2 separate regions of the Homo sapiens genome follow, and region 1 is linked to region 2. Evidence: fine-mapped expression QTL. A gene starts in region 2. The other region holds a variant in brackets. All regions are shown on one strand. Distances are from middle to middle.

What was found. PIP is the estimated chance that this variant, and not a neighbour inherited with it, causes the effect. A credible set is the group of variants that fine-mapping cannot tell apart.
Region 1: its variant is the best candidate, but not a certain one, in a credible set for the expression of DGKB in iPS cells (HipSci, PIP 0.67).

The regions. Positions count from the first base shown.
Region 1 is chr7:15,194,785-15,200,173 of GRCh38, reverse strand. It overlaps a transcript of AGMO not described here. Among named protein-coding and RNA genes, the nearest start is that of DGKB, 290 kb to the right of the region's middle. The variant C/T (reference allele first, on the strand shown) is at 3,422.
Region 2 is chr7:14,900,424-14,905,812 of GRCh38, reverse strand. It overlaps DGKB (diacylglycerol kinase beta), which reads left to right and starts at 3,062. Exons shown (of 26, transcript NM_001350709.2): 1 at 3,062-3,221.

The DNA.
Region 1 (5,389 bases), 290 kb before region 2:
TATTTCTTGAAATCAAGTTAAAATTTAATAATTTAATAATAAAATTTAATAATTTAAATAATCAAAGACACATGTACTAAAAAAAACTAATGCTGTTCTTCATTGAGCTTTGCCTATGTATCACTGGGTTAAGGAGCCTGACTTAGATAATCTCATATTAGCAATACATTATTTAATCTTTGAATGGACAAAAATATAGAGTATTAAGAGAATCAGACTGCAGGTGTCTATGTGAACTGAGGATACAGAATTGAAGCATATTTAGTTTTCAAACTGGAACAGCAGAGGAAGATTAAATTTTGCATGATGAAAAAGCAACACATTCTATCTCAAGTATCAGAAGTGGGTTTGGCTTTGCTTCATTCTTTTTATACTTCTTAATTTAACACATAGTTATAGACAATACGTAAGCCTATAACATATATTGAATCCTGCTTTTGTCCCTTAACAACAATTTTCACAGAATTTTGTATACATATACAGAATCATGTTACAGTAGGGAGCCCTCTGCTGGCTTGAAATTAGGAAATTTAAGGCATAAACATTCTCAAGACCCTGATTCTACATTCTAGAGACTTTTCAGTGGGTAAAACACATTCTTCAGTAATGGCAAAGAAAAGAGACTTTTTGCTAATCTTTACATAGTTGTTTAGTATGTCAGAAGAGCTTAATGATTCCCCAAGGAATGATACATAAATATGTGTATATGCTTTAATATATGTGAATTTATAGGATTAGCCTAAAAATGAGTTTAATAATAGAAATGTTAATAAATAATTCCCCCAAATGAGAAAAGATCCTTTTGTGGTGAAGTTCAGTTTTCTTTGAGTAAATTGAATTCTGTCTATTCTCTCTCTTCTCTCTTGGGTTTACCTCACTGTGATTGTGAATGGTTTTCTATTAGAAATACAGATATTTTCAAGATACAAATTTGTGCCAATGAAAGTGGGAGTGGTTACCAGACAGGTAATGTTCCAGACACCTCCTATACAAAAATTATAACAGTGAAAAAATTAAGACAATGAGAAATCTGACCTAACAGACTCCATCTTGCTTCTAACCTCCAAGGTGTCCTTGTTTATTCCTGGGCACAGGCTGAGCTAACTTTGGTAGGAACTTAGTTTATAGTTTGCCTTTGAAACAAAAATGATAACGGCACTTTCTTAAAACAAACCCCCTTCTTGCCTGGGGACAAGGCTGCCTTTGTGGGACTAACAAATTAGCCACAAGATTAGAAAATAGGCTTAGGAGTCATACAGCTAGAGGCTACAAGATTCGAACTCTCCCCAGTTGCTCCTAGGGATAACATCATTATTGTGAAACCTCAGATTGGTGTTGGAGATATTTTTCAGCTCCTGCACTCCATGGATCAGCTGGCACCACCCAGATGGATAAACTGACTCATCTGGTCTTGTGGCCCCCACCCAAGAACTGACTCAGCCAAGAATAGCTTCAAGGCTCTTTGATTTTTATCTCTGACCTGATCAGTGAGCACTCTCCATTCCCTGGCCCCCTACCCACCAAATTATCCTTAAAAAACCCAGTCTCCGAATTTTCAGGGAGACTGATTTGAGTAATAATAAAACTCCAGTCTCCTATTCAGCTGGCTCTGCATGAATTGAACTCTTTCTCTATTACAATTTCCCTGTCTTGATAAATCGGCTCTGTCCTGGCAGCAGGCAATGAACCCATTGGGCGATTACATTTCTAGGGCCTCTGTGCATTATTAACCAAGGCACTTTATTCTTCACTTTATTCTTTAACCCTGCTAATTTTCCAGTCCAGTTTTCTTTTGCAGAGCACTAATACATGATGACAGAACATACAGCTATTATTAATGTTGTAAATTGATCTTGAGTGATACCATGTAATGTATGCTTACTGGAAGGACTTTAACACACTCTCTCTCTGTCTCTGTCTCTCTCTCTCTCTCTCTCTCTCTCTCTCTCTCTCTCTCTCTCTCTCTCTCTCTCTCTCGGGAAAGCCCTAAAAATAGGACTCGTCAATTACTCACCACTTCTATCGGAGAGATGCAAACTGACTTTGCAAATCATATGAAGATATTTACTTTTCCTAATCTACCATAAGAAAAGATAGAGGAAAGGAGCATTTGTTTAATGAGTAGTCCTCTATTAGTATTATTTTATTTAGTCTCTACAATCCTGTTAGGAGCTGTTAACACTACTTTATAGCAGATAATTTTGAGTCTGAGGTTAAATAACTTGTACAGGCCCATGAAATGTAATAAGTGACCAAAATAAAATTTAAACTCTCTGAAGTCGAACATTGAAGTCCATGATGTTTCCCCATTCCACGATGTCAGACATCTGAATAAGGCAAGCCTTTAAAAGTATAAGCTGAGGAGTTTAAGTTCAGAGTATTTTCAATTCAATTTGATGCTCCAAGATACAAAAAAAGTTCTCAGGATAAGTATTTTAGTCATAAGATTAATTGACAGGGTGAATGAGTCCAGAACTTCTAAACCTTCTAAGAATGGCAACATCGTAAGTTTACTTATAGGATTGCCATATGTCTGAAAGAGGCTACAGGACTTGTCAGTTTCCTCCAGACTTGCTCATTACCTTAGCTCTATTAGTTATGCCATTTACTTCCATATCATCTCATTCCATCAAATTATTTTTGTTAAACTGAATCTAATCGTCTCAGAGTCCTGATATTTAGCAATATGTGCATTCCTAATCATGAATCAGATGTTCAATTAGTTGCTAAAGTATATAAACCCTTGTATTTAACATTAACAGCTTACATGATAGTTTATTAAATATTTTCAAATTTCATTTTTACTAGTGATTATATAATTTAATCCCTCAGTGTGGAATCTGCAATAGAATCATTGACTGGAATTCTTTAACATATGGTATACATTATAGTGTACAGTAATAGGATTTATTCGGGAGAACAATAGAAAATAAGCTTCCTTTTTAATGTCTCGCCCATGTTCTCATAGTCATAGACTCCAGAAACCCAAGATAAAATAGCAAAAAACAGACTAGTTTGACTTTCAGAATCTTAAAACATTTTTTATGTTATAATTTTCAGCAACATGATGGAAGCAGCTTGGCTCTATCTTAAGCCTGCCTCAGTGGAAAAAAAAAACAACAACAAAAAACGTTCTATTCATTATTAGAACATTTTTTTCAAATCTCACTCCAGTTCTGCCATCCGTTCTTCCTAACAACTTACATTCCTTCCTCCCCAAGACACAATTAGAAAAAATTAGCAAATTAAGCATTGATGTTTATCTCTTGCAGATTGTGCCTTCTTTTTGACATTCTACAACTCTAGCACTATTTATGTAAACATTTTCAACCACCCAGGCACCCCAATATCCATGAATCATAATAACTTCATTTCTTGGGCATGTTCTTTCTTCATTTTAACAGCAGTAAGCCCCAAATTA[C/T]AACTTGTCTTGATTTACATTACAGAAACCAGGAAGACACAGTCTTTGCTTTATGCATCAGGATTACCTGTGGATCTTTTTAGAAACGGAAATGACTGTTGGGAACACTGAATTTAGTAAGACTGAGGACGTGCCAAAGGTTCTATATTTTTCAAACCTCTGGCAATGATAAGCTGCAGAAGCTACAGCCAAACTAGAATGAAGGAGAACTTCTCTTGTCCCTCCTGTCAAGTTTTAGAAATAAGCAGAAAAGTTGTGCAGTGTGAGAGAATATTGTTTCTATAGCAAAGATGTTAATTAAGAGAGGTAATACTGATTAAGTAAGCATGGATATTTAGACATGCCACCAAAGTTTTCTGTTTCACATGAGATCATTTTGCATACATTTTAAAAGAAACGGAGCCAGCCGGGCGTGGTGGCTCACACCTGTAATCCCAACACTTTGGGAGGCCAAGTTGGGTGGATCACATGAGGTCAGGAGTTCGAGACCAGCCTGATCAATATGGTGAAACCCCTTCTCTACTAAAAAAAAAAAGTATAAAAATTATCCAGATGTGGTGGTGGTGCCTGTAATACCAGCTACTCTGGAGGCTGAGACAGAAGAATCGCTCGAACCCGGGAGGCAGAGGTTGCAGTGAGCCGAGATCACACCACTGCATTCCAGCCCGGTGACAGAGCGAGACTCTGTCAAAAAGGAGAGGAGAGGGGAGGGGAGAGGAGGGGGAAAGAAAAGAAAAGAGAGGAGGGAAGGGGAGGAACTGAGCCAGAAAATGTAAATACTATGTAAGCATCAGCAAGCTGGAGAGTGAATGGAGGTAGAGTGGGGAATGGAGATGTGGTCGAAAAATATTGTCACCATAGGTCCTGTTTGCATTTGTCTGATTTTTCATTTTTAATGGAAGATTATTAATAATGGTAATGATACAGGAGTTAACAAGGCATTATTTGGGCAGATTATGAGGATAAGGAAGTCCTCGGTAAGGTTTTCCTTTTAAAGAAAAGCAGCTCCTAAATCATTTTCTTTTCTAACAAAAAGCAGTCTGTAAAATCAAGCTGCAGTCATGGAAAGGCAAGCTAGAAGCTTGCACAGGTAAATGCCAGCAGTTGTGCCAATAGGAAAGGGGCTACCTGGGGACTAGGCATGTTCAAAACGGTGGTTCCATGTTCCCTTTTCTTTGCTAACCACGTGTACGGTAAGGAGCAGACAACATGGCGCCAGCCAAGTACAAAACCCATTTGCATAATAAAAAGATTAGGGTGGAGTGACAAGCTTCTTCGCAGTACTATGTAAGCGTCACACCTGGTCCAACCAATCTTTGGGCCCTATGTAAATCAGGCACTACCTCCTCAAGCCAATCTGTACAACCCTGTGCACTTTACCAGGGGCACGGAAGACCCACTGGGGCACCCATCTCTCCCTGCAAGGAAAAAAGCTATTCTCTTTTCTCTTTCTTGCTCCTATTAAACCTCTGCTCTTCAACTCACTTCTTTTGTGTTTCCATGTCCTTAATTTCCCTGGCATGAGGCAAGGAACCTCAGGTATCTATCCCAGACAATGACTGCTTTAGTGTTAAAATATACAGGGGGTTAGGTTTGGTAGATCCCTATTTTACACTTCTGGCTTCTTCCAGGGTCTCTTGTAGTAGTGTGAGGTATGTGTGCTCACTGAAGGGAGCTCTCCCTGTAACACAAAGTTAAATGTAAAAGATGTCCATACATAATGGTTTCTCTCCTCCCCTTATCCTATTCAGGCAAATCCAACCAACACATCCCTTTCAGAGACATTAGACAAATGCAACTAACACATCCCCTTCTGAGGCAGTACACAGCATGCATTTTAACTTGCTGGTAAAATGATGTCTGCTGAGACAATCGGAGCCTAAAGGGGGCTAATTCTCTCTAGACAGGGGGTATTGGAGATCATCTAAAAATGGAACCTGGCAGCCACACGGCACACTAGGAAACCTT
Region 2 (5,389 bases):
TACTGTGCACATACCACTTTCTAAGCACTTTGGTAGATGCTAGAGACGCATGAATGAACTAAGCAAACATGGCTTGCTTTTGCTGTTGTACAGTTTGCAAACTTTTGGGTTCTCTTCAGTAAATGACTATCATTAAATTACAAAATTTAGTTTGGGAATACTTGTTTTGATGATGAAGGAGATGTAGATGAAAATTAATATGATTCGTTTCTATATATTTTCACAAATTGATGATTATGTTGAGGAATGAGTATAGAGCAAGTTCATTTTTCTCTTATTTTTTAGATTGATGAATGATAAACAGATTCCCATGAAGTTTCTGAAAATCTAGTGATGGGAGCAGAGAAGCATCTTGGAGAAATGGGCACAGTGTTGTAAGGGAGTGATTTGTAAGTTTTACCACAAAATGGAAAATCTTGAGTTATGAGTCAGGAATAAGATTCAATCACCAATCCTTAACTGAAAATTTTCTTCCTCCATTACCAAACCTTGTAGTTTTAAGAGAGTGGTTTTTTCTTAAAGTGAATCTTAGTAATGCTATAAGCTGTTAAAAAAAAAAAAAAAAAAACTAACAAGATGGATGTTAAATACTCATTACCAATTATTTTAACATCTTGTAGTTCTTCCAGCTCTACCCAGACCAGATGTTTAGACTCCTTCTTATTTATAATGAAGATAGCTAATAAATTATGTCTCTCAATAATGTTTAGAGTGTTAGTGCTCTTCCTAAATATGATTTAATTTCAAAATGGGAGTAAAGGTAAAACAAAAAACAATAACCAAAAAGATCAAAAAGAAAACCCTGCTAAACTACAAATGGCAAGATCCTGCTAGTTATAGTAAGGGATGAATTTGTTGAGCAGGGCAAGTTTAAAATCATACCATTTGTGGATAAAGTTGGCCTTTTGTATCAAAATGTATTTCTATGTGCTAGAGACTTCTTGTGCCTACTTCCTTACACTGCAGTGTACACAAGTATAAAAAAGGTACTCTTCAGACTGTTAATAATATTAATTGTGTGATACAATAATTATTTAATGGACAGACAACAAATGAAGAGAAAAATAGCTATTTGGCATCATGTTTAATTAGAATTTTGACGTTAAAAAATTCTGGATGCTATTCGCATTTAAGGTATTATATGATTTTTAAAACAAAATATTAGCCTCTGATAAAATCTGTTAAAATTGAAGTTAGGCTGGCTTTGGCAAATTGATATTTGTTGGATAATTGATAAATGCTTTGCTCATTAACTGGTCTTTGTTTAGCTAAAGGCAGTATAAACACATCAGGGAAAGATGTATTATTTAATCCTTTTGGGTTATTTTCTTCCTTCTGGGTCTTTTCTTATATTTTCTTTCTTCCGTGTTCCCCCTCTGTTTAATTTAACCCTGATTAACCCTGATTACACAAGCCCTAACAACTGGGAAAAAATATGGCCAATATGAAAAGTACTCAGAGGCAGAAATAATTAAAGGCGTGCATTACAAATAAAATCAAAAGGAATTAAGTTTATTTTTAGCTCAGACAACTGGAGGCTGAAAGTGGATTAAAAGTACTATTCAATTAAGTGATGTGTGTGTGTGTGTGTGTATTTAGGAGGGGTTGTTCATGATTACTCAATCTACAGAACAAGAAAGTGAAGACAGACTATTACTAGAGCAAATGTTACTAGTAATTAAGAAGTATTCTATTCTTTGGGGGATTTGAGAACGTCTTCCATTTCTAAGTTCTGCCGAATGTCATATTTTTTATGAGAATATGTTGGAGATTAATGAGAGCAGCCAATAAGGAGAGCAAATGAAAGTTAATAGAAGACAGAATCAAGTTGGTTTTACCAGAGTCTGTAGCTGACAGAGAGATGTTAATGCATTGAAATCATTGAGAATATTATATAGATAAGTTAAGAGCAACCACGGGACTTCTATGTCAAGATACCCCGTGTATAAGCTGGTAAGCACACTGCTTAATAACTGTCTGGTTTTGTACACAGTCCACAAAAATCTTGATTATTGACTTACTTACATTTTTCTTACCCTAATACACTATTTTACACACGTGCCTCAAAATTGTTATTTTTATCTGTGCCCTGATTGGTTACACATACATAGAGTTTCTCCCAATATTTAACTGCCTTTCTACTTCATCCATCCTCCAGTCACCTGCTCCGAGGTTACCAAGCCGGAATGCAGCAAGAGCGTCTGCAGCTGCTACAATTGGTAGAAGTGGCTTCGGCAGATGGTTGCTGAACAATGACCCACCAAGGACTACAGTTGTAGAAGGGAGAGGGGAGACGGGTATCATATTTCCTCCCTGAGATGTATAGTGAGTGGTAGTAATTGCAGTGAATCCAGCTCACTGTCTCAACAGCCTCTCACCTGCACCGTCTCCTCCCCTGTCTTATAACTGGACCAGCAGTTAAACAGCTGTATAGCCTTGTCTCCCTGTCTCATTTTCCCCTGAGCTCCATCAGCAAGAGTAGCAATAGCAGCTGGAGAAGCGGCAGCCAGAGATAGGCAGGGCTGGTGCTTGCAGCCGCGCAAATCGCCTCCTCCTCAACACACACACACACACACACACACACACACACACACACACACTGCACAGACTTCCAATATCAACGCGTCTTGACATAAATCAAGGACTAAGAGAGACTGAAGAAGAGCGTTAGTCATGGACAACAGGTATTTCATCTCTGACAAATTGTTTCCTTCAGCTGCTTACTGGTTTGGATGATAAAATAATCATTTGTGATAGCTAGCTTGAGTGGGAGTCTGGAGGACTGGGGGTGGACGCGATAGAGGAGCGGGGATGAAGTGGGAGGAGTGAGAGGTGGGGAAGGGGGACGCCAAAGATGACTTTCAGGCTCCGGAAACCTACGTCTTTCAGCCTCCGCTGTTTTTTAGTTGCAAATGATCAGAGACGGGTGAACTGCAGGCAGCCTGTGTTGCTGCCTGGAAGTAGATTTCCATCTTTCAGACACTAGTTCCAATGGGCCGGGTGTTCTGGAAGGGGGTGGCAGTGGGGAGGAGGATGCTGTGAGCAGAGTTCTTGAAGCTCCACTCCTCTGGGGAAGCCGAGCTGTGTGGGAGCCTTCTTACTGTGCCGGGAGCGTGTGAATTGGAAAGGATCCTGAGAACTGGCTAGTCCCAGTTCCTCTCCGGAAAAGCAGTGGCTCTCGCTTCAGAGATGCGCTCAGCTTTCGCCTGCATCACACTGCAGTAAGTTAAACTGGACATGGTTGGCAAATTGAGTGGCTTCTGGGTGTGTGGTGCGGGGGAAGGGAAGCTGGGAAGAAATGGGGAGGAAAGTTAGAGAAGCATAGCTTTGAATTCTCCATGAAATGTTAAATCGGTTCGTCTCCCTGACTCCTGTCCTAGTTATGCTATAGTAGGGGTGCTCTGTGATTTGCAGGCGGATGCCGCTTGTGTATTAGCTATGCAGAAAGTGCCCTGTCCATTGTGATTTTGGGCAACATAACTGATAAATGTTTTCTAAATTTAATTCCAAGAGTGGTCTCCTGAAAGTTACCAATGAGATAGCAGCTTGTCTTTTCAAAATGTAATTCATAAAGAGGCTGGCTTGGACTTTCAAATGCCCTAGTTAATTGTTACAAGTTCCAGTCCAGATTTATTCCTAATCTGTGAACTAAACAAGCAAGCAAGCAAACAAAAGTCTTCGATTTACCTTATTAAATTAAAATAAAACGTGAAGTAGGTCTCTAGATAACTGCTAGGCAACAGCCTAGGCCACACTGATGATATGATAAACATTCAAATACTCTTCAGTGGGTGCCACATGGAGGGTCCCCTCAGTTTCTTCCTGCTGCAATAATCTCCTCCACTTGCTGAACAGTCTCTTTCTTGTGATTTTAAAGTGGCGATTTTTACATAGATGGCTCTATACTTAGAAACCAAGCAGCATTGTGTTCACTGGCAGAAAATGAAGGCTTAAAACTTTTATAAAACAACTTCAACTGGTTGCTCAAATTGCAGATAACCAACTCTTTTAAAAACAGGTCAGCAAGGACCAGTCCATTGTAAAGCAAATGACCAAATAAACATGAATGCAAGCAGAATACTGAAGGTCTTTTCTAGAAAATAAATCAGAAATAATTAATGTTAAAAATGTTGGGGTACCTAACCAGGTCCTCTTGCATTGACCAGATTTTTACAGTGGTGGTGGGGCAGTGGGGGGTGGGGGGGGGTGGAAATCCCTCAAACAGAAAGCATATATTACACAAAAATGTTAGACTTAGTTGGAGGATCATTGGAGAAAACACTGTATTAGTACATTTTTCTCCAAGAAAAATTATTGACAAAACAGAAATTACCTAAAAGAGAATGTAAGATTTTAATCTGGATACGTCCATAGGCTAGCATATATTCCATAGGAGAAGAAGCTTCAAAATTTGTGAAATAACAATTGTGAAAAACAAAGTAATTCTGAAATCCTCTGTCTTTAGAAAATGGGTAACCAAGGACTACTCTTATCCTATAATTTCAGTTTTAAATTGTGCTACTCTTTCTCTAATCCACCAAATCTTCATGCTTTTACCAAAAATAAAACACGTCAAGAATGTCATTGGAATAGTCTTGGCTAATTTTCTACTCATCACGGGGATCTCCAGGTATAAAGGCTTACTTAATATTTTTTGGCATTGTTGGAGTGCCCAATTTGTTATAGGCGATCCATGCCACACACATACATAGTATCCCTGTGCATAAAGTCTACATGTGACCTTGTGAATCACTGAGTAAAATATAATGCAGGGAATATATTTGCTACAATAGTGCATACATGAGGGTGGTTAAAAATTTTTGACAGCAATGAGAAAGAAAACGAAAAGTCTATATGAAGAATAGAAGAATATGGTTGGAGCAAATTTGCAAGCAGTTCCCTAATACTCTAGAGTCAACTATTATTACCTGAAATCTTTATGTAGCTAAAGAGGAAGAAAATTAGGTTAAGAGCACTGATAAAAATTTGACAAAATTTTTTTAAATCTAGAAACTTATGTAGTTGGAGTTGAGCGGTGGCAATGCCTTTGCTTCATACTTTCTTGTCCTACTGGTAAGCAAAGCTCAAGTTATGACTGGGAAGATTATAAAAATCATTTGTGTAATAAAACAATTATTTAAATTGTTTTAACAATTTAAAACCATTGGTAAGTTTTGCTGGGATAGTGTCTGAACTAGTATCCTATGACTGATGCTTTTTCTTGCACACTATTGAAAGAACGGAGAGTTGTAGTCAGACAAGCCAGATGAAGATAGCTGCTGATCGCGAAATCTAATTCTGCCTACTGATAACGACTATGATGTGATCTATAGGCTTGAAATGACATTTCAAGATGATCCTCTCCTGGATGTTTCTTCTGGCTGCCTTC